Linked DNA regions of Homo sapiens: region 1 is linked to region 2. A link means that fine-mapping ties the variant in region 2 to the expression of a gene that starts in the linked region. Tissue or cell type: testis. Region 2 holds a variant in brackets; the other region holds the start of a gene. All regions are shown on one strand. Distances are from middle to middle.

What was found.
Region 1: it holds the start of PAH, and the variant in region 2 is fine-mapped to the expression of PAH in testis (GTEx, PIP above 0.99).

The regions. Positions count from the first base shown.
Region 1 is chr12:102,914,239-102,922,238 of GRCh38, forward strand. It overlaps PAH (phenylalanine hydroxylase), which reads right to left and starts at 3,006. Exons shown (of 13, transcript NM_000277.3): 1 at 2,833-3,006. The coding sequence starts at 2,892.
Region 2 is chr12:102,946,559-102,954,899 of GRCh38, forward strand. LOC112267865 (a long non-coding RNA gene) reads right to left here and starts at 4,287. Exons shown (of 4, transcript XR_945280.3): 1 at 4,031-4,287; 2 at 3,576-3,722; 3 at 185-244. It also overlaps a transcript of PAH not described here. RefSeq lists enhancers at 3,395-4,322, 4,931-6,344. The variant G/T (reference allele first, on the strand shown) is at 4,071.

The sequences.
Region 1 (8,000 bases), 32 kb before region 2:
TTGATCATGATGTTATCTTTCTAAAAAACTTCATTTATTTAGAGCCTATATAAACATTTATTTAGAGCCTATAATTTCTGGGTATTATAATAAGCACTTGATTTGGATTATCTCATGTAATTTGGCAACAACCTAAGAGGTAGGTTTTATTAGGCACCAAGTGCCCCCTTTTATTGATGACAAGATTAAGGCTTAGAGAGGTTAAGGAACTTGCCTATAGTTACACAGTTAGCAGTGGAGCCAGGATCTGAACCCAGGTCATTTGATCTCTGCATACTGTCCATGAATCACAATCTCTTGCAGCCTCTATTCCTCTTCCCCCTTTTAAACCCTGCCAGAGAGGTACAGATGAGTCTCTGACTTAAGTCTTCTTCCTACTAAAGAATACTGAGCCTTCTTCTTTCCAGTTTCCTTGAAATGACAAAAGATATTCCTGTCTCTAGTTCACTTGGTAGCACTCTTTTCTCCTGTTGGCTTCCAAGAAAAGTAAGATATTTCTGATACACATCCACAGATGCCACTTTTGACTAGGGCAATTCAGACTTGAATGTACCTGGGCTTGAAGTTGAGTCACCCCCTAAACCCCACCCCACTACAGTGTGTGTTCAGCCAATCACAAGTCTGATCTCATCTTCTCCAGAAATGCCTCTGGGCATCAGGTCCTTTCTTCCCACTGCCATCACCTGAATCCATTTCTTAGTGGCCTGCATCGATCCAGCCTGACATTTTTACTCTTGTCCTTCTATTTAGAATCCCTCAAACGCTCCATCCCCATGGCTTCTTGCTGATGTTTGGCAGTTTCTGTGGTACCGAATCTCTGGAGGCCCACCTACAGGAACCTCCTTTCCAGCCAAGCTGCTTTCTTTCTTGCCTTTTTAGCTCCTCATTAGAGTATTCACCAAATTTCCCTTTCCAAGATCTCACCTTCCTTAAAGGCTCTTTTGGGTCTCAATTCTCTTAGGAAATGTTTGTTCCCCTCAGCCCAGGTGCACAATCACTTCTTTATCTATGCTTTCCACTTGGCATTTGATGCCCACATGGTATTTCATAATAATTGACTCACAGAAATTGATTTGTCCTTAGTGCTCATCTAGTTAAACTCCCTTACATTACAGATGGGGAAAACTTAGAGCCAAAGGGAGAAAATAACTCACCTGAGGCCACATAGGTAGTGGAGGCTGGTCAAGAACTCAGGCTCCTAATTATCAATTTTTCTACATAATTCCCTTTGCTATGGACATAATATGGGAATTTAGTCCTGTTTCTTGCAAAGTAAAAGATTTACTCTGGTCCAGTCACCAGACAGTTAGTCAATAGCACTCCTAACAGCCTATATTTCACCATGCTGATCCCCCTTCACTTGCTCCATTTCTCTCCATGCACTTTGTAAATCAGTGTTTCTCAATGAGTGTTCCTTGGATCTTGACTCCAAAATTACAGGTGATTCCTTCTTATAATGCAGTTCCCTGGGCTTTACCTAAACCTGTTGAATCAAGTTGTCTTAGAATCTGCCATTTCAAAACCATCCCAGGTGATTCTTAACCATAGAAAATTTTGGAACCATTGATATATATACAGCCTATTTTTTTAATTATAACTTTTCCCTAAATGTGTCTGCAAATTCACATTTACTATATAACACGACACTACTTTGTTTGTTATTAATATAATTTGTGGATTCTCAATCTTCTAAGTGCTCTATAAAGAACTTTAAACCCCTATGCTTTCCTGATGAGATCCCTGCCCCTAACCCCTTCCCACAGTTGTGGGGACCGTATTGCCAGCAGCACCAAAACTATGTGCAGGATGGAGCCAGGACCTGTTCTGGGATCACTCTGACTCTCACGCTGTTCCTCTGTACAATAAGTTCTGTCTCCTAAGAGCCATGTACTATTTTCATAAGAAATTTTTTTTTTTAAGGATTCAAATAAAAATCAGTCCTAAGTTCTGCAGTCTTTCTAGTTATATTAACGTTAACATTAACCATTCTTTTCTCTCCAGCCTCCCTGTTTTCTACTGAGAACTCTTCTCCCTAATCCTACTGATGACAGGGGCCTGCAGACTTACATTATTTCCCTGGCCTGGGCTTTATGACTGAATCTCAAGAGTCCAGGAGCAGACTTCCTCCCATGGGTAAATATGTAGGTCACATTAAAGAATGTATTCTGCAATTCTTCACCTCAAGAAAATGCCAACAAATCCCGGAGAATGGAATATACCTTGGGCATTATTTCCAAGTCACGTTTAGGGTTCTTTCACATTCCATGCCCAGGGCTAACTCTTGGTCATTTTCCTCTCTGCTTAGTTTCTGCCTCCCCTGGTCTGAGTAAGTTTCTGTCTGAATTCTCTTCATGCCTCATCTTCTTCCCAAAATGAAAGGAGGATAGTTACTCACAATTTTGCCATTTTGATACCTTGCTGAGAGCACTTTATAAATATTACAAAAGAAATCTAGAAGGATTCCACATCCCATCCCAGATCATTAGGGACCAGCCCCTTCAGTGTACAGAAGAGTAAACAGACAACAGAGAGGGACAGTAACTTGTCCAAAGACACACAGCTAATTGGTGGCAGTTCTGGAGGCCAGATCCCCAACCCCCTAAAGCAATGGTCATTCATTCCTGTGAAAGCCACCGAGGACAGATGTTCTCCTACTTAGAAACAATTGTTGAGGACATTTGTCTGTTGACTTCCTGGATATTCTCATCAGCTTCCAACGAATTCAGACTTCTTACTGAGCTTATGAAACCAGGAAGCACCAGCAGTCTTCGGATCTCTTTCTCTGGAGGCCCAAATTCCCCTAACTGAGCAGCTCAGGCTGCCGTGGCTCACCTGTCCAAAGTCAGAGAGTTTCCTGCCCAAGCCTGGGTTTTCCAGGACCGCAGTGGACATGCTGGCTCCCCGGGAGTGAGGTCTCTGGCTTTTTAGGGCCTCAGGTACAGGCAGGTTTGCAAACAGCACGTGGGGCTGAAGGTTTTAACCTCGCACTAGGGAGGAGAAGAGAGTTACAAAGGGTGTCTCTTGCGTGGTGCATCTCCGCACAGTAACGCCCCTCGTGGGCGTTGTCCTGACGCAGGAGGCCAGGGCAGCCTGCCGGATGCTCCAGGTCACCTGCCCAGGACGGGCCGGAGGGGAGGGGCTGAGGGAGGGTGTGGGGGACGCAGGAGGCACCACTTCGCTGCCCGCCCTGGGTAAAGGGAAGAAGCCAGGGAGCGACGGGCCACCCAAGCCCCGTCGATTAGACAGGTTTAGGCACTTCCGGGACTCTCAGAAGCCTGGGAAGCGAGTTCTCTGCAATTGGACTAAGCCTGCGACCGTCTGGTATAACAATTATATGAATAATCCGCCCCCCTTACCCCCAGCTGAAACAGTCAGGATTCTCATTTAGATTTTTGTTGTTGTTGTTTTCCCTTCTGTTAACCTCTAAGCACACTGCCTTGCTGTGCGCTGACTTCAGAAAACTACAGCTAGAGGGCACGTGAACGCTGAGCACAGCAGGTAAAGAGCAAATGTAAGAGCGATCTGGGTTTAAATCCAGCCTGGTGTTCTCCAGCTATTCGCACAACTGCTCCTGAAGCTCGGAAAAGAGGGTGGTAGAGCCACCTTGCTGGAAGGTTTTAAGAATAGGAATAAAGAAATGCATTAAAATTTAGTACAGTTCTTCCACATAAACACTCAGTAAATGGAAGATATTGTTTAAAAGCAAATCCACATAAATTTGACAATAATTACTGAGACCTGTACCGTGTGCTTGGTGGTGTTCTAGTCTTTGGGAATACAGCAATGAACAAAACAGACTCTGCCTCCCCAGCTATGCTGCCATTCTGGTGGGCAGAAAATAAACATATAAATAAGTTTAGGTAGGGCTAAGTCTTTTGAAGAAAGTAAAGTAGGGGGATGGTCTATGAGTGAGCTGGTGGGATTTGGCCAGTGGTCTTCAAATAGTCAGGAAGATGCCATTAACCACACTTTTAGAGAAGACTGAGGGTGAGGCATTACTGACCAGGAGGTAAAACAAAGTATAAAAGAATGCTGGAAAGCAGGTTCAGAGGTTCAGAAAGGATGTGAAAACTCAGGGGCCTCAAGCCTTGAGTGCCTGCTTAATATTTTCCCAAGAGAAAGTAATGGGCTGTAAGAAAATAAGCCAATAATAAAGGTTGCTGGAAGCCCATCCCTCTCCTCCCACTGTTCTTTGACCAAGCATCTGAAAATAAATAAACAAATAAATAAATAAATAAGTAAAATAAAACTCAGGTTTAGGATTCAAAACAAGTGGTTTAACTCTTGGTTCTACCACTGATTTGGTCAAGCCCATGCCTCAGTTTTTTTTTGTTTTTTTTTTTTGTTTTGTTTTTGTCTTTAAAATGAGAATTTTAAGGGATATTTAGGATTCCTTAAGCCTTTATGATGTGCCAGGCTGTCTACTGTCTGCTAAGAATACAGATATAACAAGTGCAATTTCTGTCCAAAAGGAACCTTTAGGGGCCTGATGAATATTTCCCATAGTAAGTTGGAAGCTCAATGTTGTTAAATATTGAAGGCGAAGATCTTGATTTCCATCCTCAGGAGAATCTGTATTCTTTATCTGACTCCGGCATTTTTCAGTGTAGTAGACATAAAACATGTTGTATTCCTCAGCCTCAGGATTTTCTTACAAACATAATTTCATCCCTTGATGCTACTTGAGGGCAATGAATGTGACAACTCCAAAAATATTACAGGCATGCAATAAAGAAAAGCAAAGAATATTATCTACTTATTTGCATGCACACTCTGTCTTAGACACTGTGCCACGCTCTCCACGTGCATGGTTTCACTTCTTCCTCTTAACAATCCCATGAACTATGCACTCCCTTTTAATAGGCAAGAAACTGAGGCCTAGGAAGTTTAAACAAATGGCCCAAATTCAATCTATGTTTCACCCAACACCAAGGCACTGCACTGGCTCTCAAATACTTTTGCTTTCCTGTTTGAAATGAGGACAACATAATTTTTAGGACAACAAAATGATAGCTTTTCTTTCTTCTCCCCATAACAGCTGAAAATGCAACTCTTTTTTCTAATGTTTAATTTTTGTGGGAACATAGTAGATGTATGCATTCATGGAGTATGTGCAATATTTTGATACAGGCATGCAATGTGTAATAATCACATCATTGAAAATGGGGCATCCATCCCCTCAAGCATTTATCTTTTGTGTTGCAAACAAGCCAATTATACTCTTTCAGGTATTTTTAAATGTATAATTAAATTATTTTGACTATATTCGCCCTGTTGTACTATCAAATACTAGGTCTTATTCATTCTTTCTATATTTTTTTGTACCTATTAACCATCTCCACCTCCCCTCCAGGCCCCTACTACCCTTCCCCACCTCTGGTAATTAGCTCTCTACTCTCTAGCTCCATGAATCAGATTGTTTTGATTTTTAGACCCCACATATGAGTGAGAATATGTGATGTTTGGCTTTCTGTGCCTGGCTTATTTCATTTGACATAATGACCTCCAGTTCTGTCCATGTTATTGCAAATAACAGGATCTCATTCTTTTTTATTGCTGAATAGTACTCCATTGTGTATTAAAGTACCACATTTTTTTAAAACCCATGTTGATGGAGACTTGGGTTGCTTCCAGATCTTGGCTATTGTGAACAGTGCTGCAACAAACATAAAAGAACAGACATCTCTTTGATATACTGATTTCCTTTCTTATAGGTATATACCCAGCAGTGGGATCACTAGATCATATAGTAGCTCTATTTTTAGTTTTTTGGGGAACTGCCAAACTGTTCTCCATAGTGGTTGTACAAAAATGGAATTTTTAATCCTATCTCACATAAAAATGCCCTAAATCTAGGTTGAGAGGAAAGCACATCATTGCTATCTGAGAGAAGAAAAACTAATCGCTTCTTTAAAAAAAATTATTCTGGCAAAAAGGAAAAATTTATTTATGCACTAAGATAAAAATAAGAGATTGCTTGTGCCATAAACTTGCAGATGATTTTTAAGCCACCTTTTTGTTCAATTTGGTTGGAATGCAATGTGCTGCTATAATGAGAGCAGTGCTGGGTGCTAAGGAAATGGAGGAAAAAAAGGCACATCTAGAAGAAGCATCCACAGTCAGTCAGTAGACCACTGAGGTATTTTTTAACACTGCACAGAGGTGGGGAACATGTCACAAGATGAGAAGTTGTGTACTTGGCAAACTTAGAGCTGACCTTTGCTGATTTGGAAGTTGAAGATTACCCAACCATTGCAGGTTTATCAGTTCTTTCTTGTTTATCTTCATGTGCAGAAGGTTGAGTTAATCATAATCCATGAGTTCATGGCACAGAAACAAAACCTACATGACCCTTCTCTTGTTTTTTTATTCATTCTCTTTTATCATAATTCCTCACTCTCACTGCCTTTCCCCAGAGGCAACTTCTCTAATATGATGTTTAGCCTTGAACTTGTAAAATACATAGAAATGTTTGTGCGTATATGTATTTTTCATGGATATGTGATGTGGCACTATAGATTTACTACAATCTATGGATGTACTATAGATTTCATAGTTTCTTTTTTCTTTCAACTGTGTTCTTAGGATCCAGCCATGCTGCTGAATATGTATCTAGTTCTTTGCTTTTCTAAATGGTTCAGAATATCCCAGTGTGTATTTGCCACACTTGACTTCTTTATTTTCCAGTTATGGACATCTAAGTCATTGCTAATTTTTCACCACCCCAAACAATACTGTGATAAATTTCCTTATCTTTCTTCCCTTATAGGCCTGGGGTAGAAATTTTCTGGGATAGAAGAGTGGTGCTATTATGAATCATAGGGAACATGCACTCTTAATTTCACAAAGTGCTGCCAGATTGCCCTTTAGAGTGGCTTGGACCAGTCTACACACCAACCAGCAGGCAAAAGAGTTCCTATTGGTGGGTATACCTAATATGTGGTATTCTCCAAAGGTCAGAATTTTTGCCAATCTGATCAGCATAAGCTGGTGTCTTGTTGTTTTTAATTTGAATTTCTCTCATAACTCATGAGTTTGAGCATCTCTTTATATACTTATACCTCTTAGATTTCCCATGCTATGAATAGTTTATCATCATATTTTCTACCCATTTTCTACTAGGATTCCTGTCTTGTAGATTTGTTGCAATAATTTCTGTTAGCTCTGTGTCCAAATATTAGCTCTGTGCCCTTCTCAGTCACTGAACACATTGCCTCCCAATGTGTCACTGTCAGTTAATTGTCAACTGGTGTCCTTCCTTGATTAAACAATAAAACAAGTAATTTTGAAATAACAAGTCCATCCTTTTAAAAATTTTTGTGGTTTGTACTATAGAGTATTGTTTAAGAAGTCCTTCCCCATCCCAAAGTTCCAAAGAGGTGCTCTTCTCTCTAGCATCTAGATCTATCATAGCTAGATCTTTAATCTACCTGCATTGTAGATATACCTGTACATGCCTTGGGGATTTCTTAGAGGCTTTTCAACATGGTCCCACAGTCCAGGTAATACCACTTAACTTAAAGAGGCCAATCCCACAATCAATTGTCTTTTGGGATTTTCTCACCATAGAGCCTATTTTAACTTTCCGCTAGATATATAGATCAAATTTTCTTTCTCTGATTTGAAAGTTATCCCTTATATTTTAATTTTTTTGCTGTATTTTTATTTTTTTGCTCCAAGTTATATAATTTTTTCCTTTTAGATATAACTTTTTTCATTTATTTTTGAGGAGGTGAGCACTCATATGGCTCAAACATCAAAATATAAAACCTAGTGAAAATTATTTCACATTCCCCTGTTCATCAGGCACCTGATTCTCTTCTCCAAAGATAACCAATGTTGTCAGTTTCTTCTAGAGATCTTTAAGCAAATATTTATGATAGTGTATATGCATATATTCCTTCCCTCCTTTTCTTACACAAATAGTAGCATACTATACATGATTCTAAATCTTGCCTTTTTTTTTTTTTTTTTGAGATGAAGTCTCGCTCTGTTGCCAG
Region 2 (8,341 bases):
ACAATCCCTTTGCTGTCCCTTACCGAAGCACACAGATTCTCTGTCCATGCCATGCGTCCACTGCTGCTGGAGTGTTGGGGTGATGGGGGAGGAGTTGCATCAGCAATTCAAGACTGTCTTTTCTACCTTCTTAGGTGTCCCTTTCAGTGATATAAAACTAAAATAGCGTACTGTGATGGCTTACCTGATTTTTGGTTCTTATGAAGATGCTTTTTTGTGTGGATAGTCACACAATTTGGTGTTCCTGTGGGGAGAATGATAGGTGAAGGCTTCTATTCAGCCATCCTGTTCCCCTGTTCTGAAAGGTTTTGTAGAGGAGCAATAGGGTATGTGATACTTTGTAAAGATCTCTTTGTCTGGGGCTGTAATATAAAGTTCCATTTTTTTATGTTCTGATGCCTTTTATACGTGTGACTGTGACATTTAGTTAGATCATTCTGGTGGCAGTGAAGAAAAAGTATTTGAGGGAGATTAAACTAAAAGCATGAATACCAGCTGGGACAATACTGAAGTAAAGCAATGATATAGTAATAGGGAGGAAGAAAATGATTTAAATTCAGATGGATTTTTCATTATGTACATTTGTTTATATTATATACATACTAAATGTGTGTGTTTGTGTGTGTATATGTGTGTGTGTGTCTGTGTGTGTGTATAATTGTTAAGACTTGGTGGTTGTGGAGTGCCTGTGAGAGAGTGGTGAGAGTATGGCATGACCCCAGGATTTTGGTTTGACTGTGTGGGCAGATGGTGCTAAACCCTGAAATATAGAACACAAAAGGAGGGAACGAGTTGAGGGAATAAGCATGATCTCAGTTTCAAATATGTTGCCCTTGATACATCCATGGAATATTCCAGTAGCAATGTTGGTCACACCAGTTTCAGATCCCAGGGAGGTCAGTCCAGAACCAAGAATTTGAGAGTCATCAGCAGAAGAGGTGGAAGCTAAACTCTAAGGGCAGCATATGTCATCAAGGAACTTGACACTGGGGATGAGAAACTAAAAAAACTAAGTACTGAGAAACAAAGGATCAGAAGGATAAGAACCATGGTAGTCAAAGGAGGAGAGAATCTCAAGAAGAGATGAGTGATCAGCAGGGCCAGATGCATTGAGATGATCAAATAAAGTAGGACCTGATTTATCTTTTATGTGTAGCAAAATAGAGTCGGGGTGACTGTATTAGTCTGGGTTCTCCAGAAAAAAGAACCAGTAAGAAATTAGATGTAGATGGACATGTATTTCAAGAAATTAGCTCGTGTGGTTATGGAGGCTGAGTCCCAAGATCTGCAGTTGACAAACTGTGGACCCAGACTACAGTTCCAGTATGAGTCTGAGTCCAAAGTTAGGAGAAGACTAGTGCCCCAGCTCCAAGACAGGTAGAGAGAGTAAGTTCTCCCTCACTCATCCTCAGTCCCTCAACAGATTGGATGAGCCCTACCCACAATCTTTACTCAGCCCCCCTCATCCAGAAAGATTCCCACAGACACACTCTGGGTACTCCAGAGGGAAGAGCAAGAAATAAATGAAACTGTGGGTGTTGACTAATGTTCAAAAAATTTGTCAGAGGGCTGAAGGTGGTCACAAGGTCAGAGAGTGTATCAGCCTTTTTTTTAGGATGGGAAGGTACGCATTTTATAAGTTACAGGTTTATGAGTTAATCAATCAAACTTTCCTGAGTTGGGGGGAGACCAGATTGGAAGAAATAGAGCTCAGGAAAGGAGGTTGGAGAGAGGTAGGGCAGAAGTGAGGATGAGGAAGAATCAGAGGATGAGGCTACATATGGGAATGGAAAGTTAAGATTTCCAAAGTGGGGCTCTTTTGGGTAAAGACAAAGCCCAAGATGCAGACTTGCAAGGGGTGGCTGAAGAGGAATGGAGGTTAAGGCTACTGGAGTGGAGAAAGTCAAGGAAGCGAAAGGCTCCGGGGCTGGGTAGGTTGTTCCTGTGGATCTTTTCTTCCCGCTGCAAGTTTCTGACCATTCTTCAGGGCCAGTATCAAAGGCCATCTTTGTAATAACTTACTGAGCCTCTCCTCCCCCTCAAGTCACTAGGGCATCCTCTTACCCAAATAAAGTATTAACATATTTACATGGCTAGTTTAACTTCTTTATCAGAATATATTAGTTCTTCATGAGTCTGAGTAATGGAGACTGTCTTATCACCCAGAATACCTCTAGAGAAATAGTTCTTTATCTTTAGTATACAAAAGGACTTCCAGGTAGCTTGCTAAAAGAGCCAATTTGCCAGATTCTGATTTGGTGGGTCTGGGATAAAGCTTCAGAATCTGAATATTAACAAACATCTCAGTTATCTCTAATGGGAGTATCAGGGGAGAACGTCATTAAGTCCTCACGATGCTCTATGGTTGAACCAAATTGTATGGAGAAGAATTAATGGAATAGAATCAAGTAGTCCTGAATGAATCAAGTTGCAAATGTTCGCAGTCCCAGCTGCAGTTTGCGAAATAACCGGCAGGTGGCGAACGACCCACACAACTCGCAGAAATTACAGCTTCTCGGGGTCCCAATTCCTAGACCCAAAACTGCCCAGGAGTAGAGGAGAATCCTATTTCCCAAGCAATGCTGTCGGCGACAATGGTGAGTTTCATCCGTTTGCATGTGCATCCTGAGGTGCCAATGGCCGATCTCTTGCCCTAGTCCCCAGGGCTAAAGTCATGCTGACCCAATGACATTGCCTTCTGGCTACCAAGAGCCATAATCCTGGCACCAGCAAGGACTGGTCTCACTGATGACATCATTTGCCTAATGAAGGTTCTTATGGCAGGAGGGCAGTGGGAGAAGAACAGCAAACCAAGTTCGTCTATTCAAAGAGAGGAATGGTTGCCACTAGAGGATCATGTGGTCCACGCCTGTATTCTCTATTTAGTCAGAATCAGAGGGGAGGCATCTTACTCAACCCTCTCATTTTATAGAGCCTGAGAGACGATGAGCAACTTGCCAGAGGTCACAGAGGTAGAAAGTTTCAGGATTTTCTGGGATCTGTCTCTTTAAGTGACTTGCCTTTTCATTGCACCTAACAGTAACGTGTCAAAGGGTGTGTGTATGTTGAAATCATTAGTGTCTGCTCATGAATTGTTATATAGGAGAAGCTTAGGGGTGACCATCTGGTTGGGGAAGAGGGGCTGGATGACATTAGGATGTGTTTGCATAACAAGTCCACCACTTTTACCTAGATTGTGTATTTATTTGGGGTGGGAGATGCAGGAAGGTGGGAGTCCAAAGAGAAGGGACCATGGGGAAGAAGATTCTCCATGGTTGCCCCCACCGCATGTTTTAATGGACTTTCTTATACATCTGCTTTAATGTCTACTAAGTCACAAATGTATTGAAGGCACTCATTGTGTCTTATTCCCCTCTGATTAGGTTTCATAGTTATTTGATGAATCAATGAGCATGTCAGCCTTGATCATTTTTAGATCTGAACAGTATTTTCTAACATCTTAGATGATTAGCATATACCTCCTGTTATCTATTTCTGTCTGTTTGTACTTATTTAACACATATCCAGTGTTTACTATGTGCACTGTTGTCAGCATTTTAAAAATATCAACTTACTTAATCTTGTCTTTGTTGCTGTTTCCTAAAGAGTCCATGAGAGTGAATATCTACTATTAGAAATCCTTCTCTTCCTCTCTCTTCCTCTTCCTCTCAAAAGGCCTGAAAATCAGTTACTGGTCCCTGCCCGTGCTGCAAATACTTGGCCTAGGGAAGAGTGGTGGGGAGGGATGAAATAGTTAACTAGCTGACCTGGGGCGCACAGTTTCCCTGGCAGATGCCGCGCTCAGGCTGCGGCTGCTTCCTCCTGAATCTGTTAGGAGTACACTTTCCCTTTGCCCTCGGGGCCAGCGTCCAGGTTTGCCACGGTGGTGGAGACAGCTCCAGCCACGAAGCTGATTTATAGGCCAGAGCATTCCCAGGCCGCACCGCAAGGAGTCGGGCTGAGCTTGGACTTTGGGAAGGTGGTGATGGACACAGGACACGTGGCCACACAATGGGGACACACGACTGACCTCAGTCACTTCGGTAAACTGCCCTTGCTTTCCGGAGGCG[G/T]CAGGAACGTTTCAGGAGCTCCAAGGCTCTAGGCGCCTGCATTCCTCGCCCCAGCCGGTAGTCTCCTAGCCCTGTTGAACGCAAGAGCATCCAAGGGCGCGCAAGTCCCCAAGAGCTCTCAGAGGTTCCTGACCCTGAGCGTTAAAGCCCTTCCTCGCGGATGAGACCCTTGGTGCGTTCCACCCGCTTGGGGGCTGAGACTCGCCAGGACGCACTCAGAATGAACTTTCCGCGCAGGTCAGATATAGGCACCCAGGGGTTTTGTGACGTCACAATGCCGTCTGACCCGGTGAAAGGCAAAGGAAGGGTCAAAAACGGATAGTGTGTGTGTTGTGGCTGAAGTGGGGGCATGTGAGAAGAGGGAAGTCCGAGGAATGGGGGAAGGGATTTGGGGACATGAATTTGAGAAGGAGCAATCAAGTTTGTGCGTGGGGGGGGAAGCAGGATTTTTTCTTCTTCCCTCCTATATGCAAACTGTCACTTCGGGTTAGCGTGAGCCCTTATCTGGCTCATTAGCATGAGCTGTGGCTAACACGCTTAAACCCTCTAATTATTTATTATGCCGTCACGGGGCGGATTGCAACCCCACCCCGGGGCGCACTTTCGGGAACCTGCAGAGCTGGGCACCGCACGGGGGCCGGAGCACAGAGCCTGGCCCCGCTGCGCGCTACCAGGGAGACTCCTTACGGCTCAGGAGTCCCACAGGGTACTGTTCTGAGGGTCAACGAAGCAGAGTTGTTGGGGGTCTATCTGGAATGGCTTCTCACCAACATTCATCCCCAGGGTAGTAGTACTGAACTCGCCTGGTGAATCTACATAGCACCCTAACTTCTCCATTAACAACTCCAAAGACGGAAGTTGGAGCCAAGAGGAACAGACTTTGCAAAAATAAAAACAGAAGCCAAACCTGGTGCAAAGGGTTGGGAATTGGGCTGAGTAGCATGTTGGGTACACCTTCCAGAAGAACCCTGGGGAGAACCTAAAGTTTGCTGGAGCCCTCTTCCCCACCCCCGAGTTCCAAGAGGATCCACAAAGTGGGGGTGGGAGATTTGATGGGCTGAAATCCGGTCACTCACGTCCACGGTTCTATTCAGAAAACAGTTTCAAAATAAGTTAACCTCTGTAGGGCATTTTTCCCCCTCCCCTTTAAATTGTCCCCCCTTCCCCCTCCTTCTTCTCATTTGAGTCTGTTTTATGTTCCCCTGCGTTGTGCCAACTATTTTATCTTTATTCCTTCTCTTTCTCTCTTGCCATTCATTGCTTTTTTTGTGTGTGTGGCTTCTCCGGCTGATGTGCGGCTCGTTACCACCCACTGCACACTTGCTCCTGTAGCTGAGGTGTTTCTATACAAACTCCAGCGTCCAGTTGTCATATTAATTATTACACTGAGTAATGACTGAAATGGTCAAAATAAGGGGAGACTCAAGAGCGCTTTTTCTTGCGGCTCAAAGATTCAGCAAAGAAGCCGTACAACAAAGCACTAATTGGTCCCCAGAAACACTCTGACAAGGCATGGAAGATAGGTTTCATAGAGCCCTTCGATTGTGAAGGGGGGAGAGCTCTGAATGGACTCCACGCTTCTTTTCTAAACTCTCTTGCTGAGCAAAAAATGGACCTCTGTTTGAATACTGCCCTGATCCTTGAATACTACACCCAGCAGAGAAAAAAATGCACCATTTATTGTAAGTTTTTTTTTTCTTCTCCAGCTATTCAGGGGTTCTCTGTGAAGAATCAGCTGGTTTTGTTTACCATGAAAGACCTTTACTTTATTTTCATTCTTGGAGGAGGTGGGGAGGAGGAGGGAAGGAAAGCCATGTGCCTAGACAGAGAGGAGCTGGCCTACTGTAACAAAATAGAGTGTAACAAATCCTACAAAAGTTTAGAATGTATTGATTCTTTGGAGAGCTATATAGATTAACGACTTTCTTTATGCTCATCCAAGGAAGGTATTTAATCATAATGTAAATGGGGCTTTAGAAAAAAATAAAGACTTAGCGTTACTTCTCCTTATTTGGAGAACTTCAAAAGGACTTGTGAGGGTGGCTGCAAATTACCTCCTCACCCCACCCCACATTCCCTCCTTATCCCAAAAGCCACAATAAAATATAGTTTGTGCTTTTTTTGTTTTGTTTTTTCAAACTTTTTTCTTTTTAAAGCATATTGAAAAAGTGAATAGATTTGTTAGAAGGCTGAATTCCTTAATGCAGGTGCAAGCCTGGCTGCTGTGACCAGGAAGCTGAGCCAAGCCAAATACATGGTTTGTGCTATTCTGCCCCCTGAGCAGGCCCTCCAAGGCTGGTGCAGAGTCAATGCAGGCTGGGCAGCAATCCTTTCTGAAATTACCTTGGGTAGGGTATTCTTAGAGGCAGTAGATTGTGCAGTAAAGTCCTTTTCATTTTCCCTGGGTAGGACAGTGTCTAGCACAGCCTTAGAACAGCAGACACCCCAGCAGGACAGAGGCCCTGTATTAATTATAGCTCCTGGAAGATGAATATTGGCTATGAATGCCAAGCACACTCACTTTTCTCAAAGCATCCATTGCTTCTGGAACTCAAGTCACCCCCAAATTGAGGATTACACTTAAAATCCTGTAACAAAATCCAGAATCCAAGACTTGTGTTCATCTTTGTATTCCCTTTGCCCCTGATTCAGAATCTAACTAAAGTTAAAAATATAACTTTATTAAATTATTTGTCCAATGAAAATCCTAGTTTCACTTTTAATATCAATCCCTCTCCCCAAAGAGAAAGCATAAATTGGTTTTCAAAGAGATGAGTCATATCTTCTTTTTACAGAGAGACAACACACAATCAAGAGAACATACATAGGTCTTGAGCTTCAGCAAAGGTGGTACTGGCCTGGCCTTCAGCTGTGAATGGAAATTAAGGTGGCAGGAGACTCAGGGCACAGGGTCTCTGATCTCAGGGCAGCAGACCCCTTTGGCCACTAGGAAAGCCATCTCCCCCTACAGATCCTGATGCTGAATGAAGATAAAGTCTAATCTGAAGTATGGTTCAGCTCCAGAGTGTTCTGATATAGGAAAGGGGTCTGAAGGTGCAGAAATTAAGTCCCTTATTGTATTGGAGGAGAAAGAGAAGCCTTCTTATCTTTCTGCAATGTCTGTACTCTGGGTGATACTCACCAAAGGGGATCAGTGCTTTGTCCTTCCCACTCCCCCACCCTCATGACAAGACAGAACACTGAATGCTGCTATTCGGAAAAAGTGAAAAGGCAATCTCTGATATGTGGAGAGACTTGCAAAGCAAATTACCCAACAACATCTGATTTAATTCTCATAACACCCTTGACATACAGGCAAAGGGAGTACTACCACCTCATTTATGAATGAAGGTATCAAACCTTCCTTTTGTGAGTTGTTTACTTCTCCCTTCATGTGAAGATAAATGGGACATTGTTCAAGTGTCTTAGCCAACTAAAGCCCTAAGGACTTGCTCAGAATCAGGCCCACTGTGTGGCAAGGGAGCCAAGAAAGCAGGGCCCAGTGGCTCTGCTGAAGCCCCTTGCATGTGGAGGCCACAGAACATCTCTATAGTCTATCTTACTTGCTACTTTTCATGTCTAAAAATCGGGTTACTATCTCCATCATCTTAATATGCCAGTATCACCACCATTTCTCAAAAATGACAGGAATGACTCACCCCTAGGTGCTGGGACAGTGAGACAGAGTGGCACTGGATCTCCATTGGCTGGAGTGATGATCACAGAGTGGTTCCAGGAAGCCAAGTGCTGAGGCTCCTCCTGCCACACACCCTTTCCTGGGTGGGTTGTGTGAGCATGACTTTCTTATTAATCCCTTTCTCTTTAGACCTGGGCTAGAGTGCTCTACATACATATCATTGAAGTCTCACAACTCTTGGAGGTAGATACTATAATTACTGGCATAGGTGAAATAGAGACCCCTAGAGTGTCTCAGGGTCACACAGCTCTCAGGTAAAGGGGCCTAGATACCAAGTCAAATCAGCCTGCTTTATCTGGAATTCCATGGGCCTAGGAGAGCAGAACATGTGGCCAGTTCTCTCAGGTCGGGAGGAGGGATTATAATCTAGGTCACACAGTCAGAGGCAGGATTCTAATTTTGGCTCCTGAGCCTCCCATCTTTTGCTTCACACTGGTGAAAACAACCAGAAAGCCAATATCAATGGAAAACTCTCTTGGTAGAATCCCCAAGGATAGAAATGCAAACCTCTAAAGAAAAATTATAGACTGTTCTACCCTAGGGTTGGAGGAGAAAGTGGAGATGACAGTGTTGA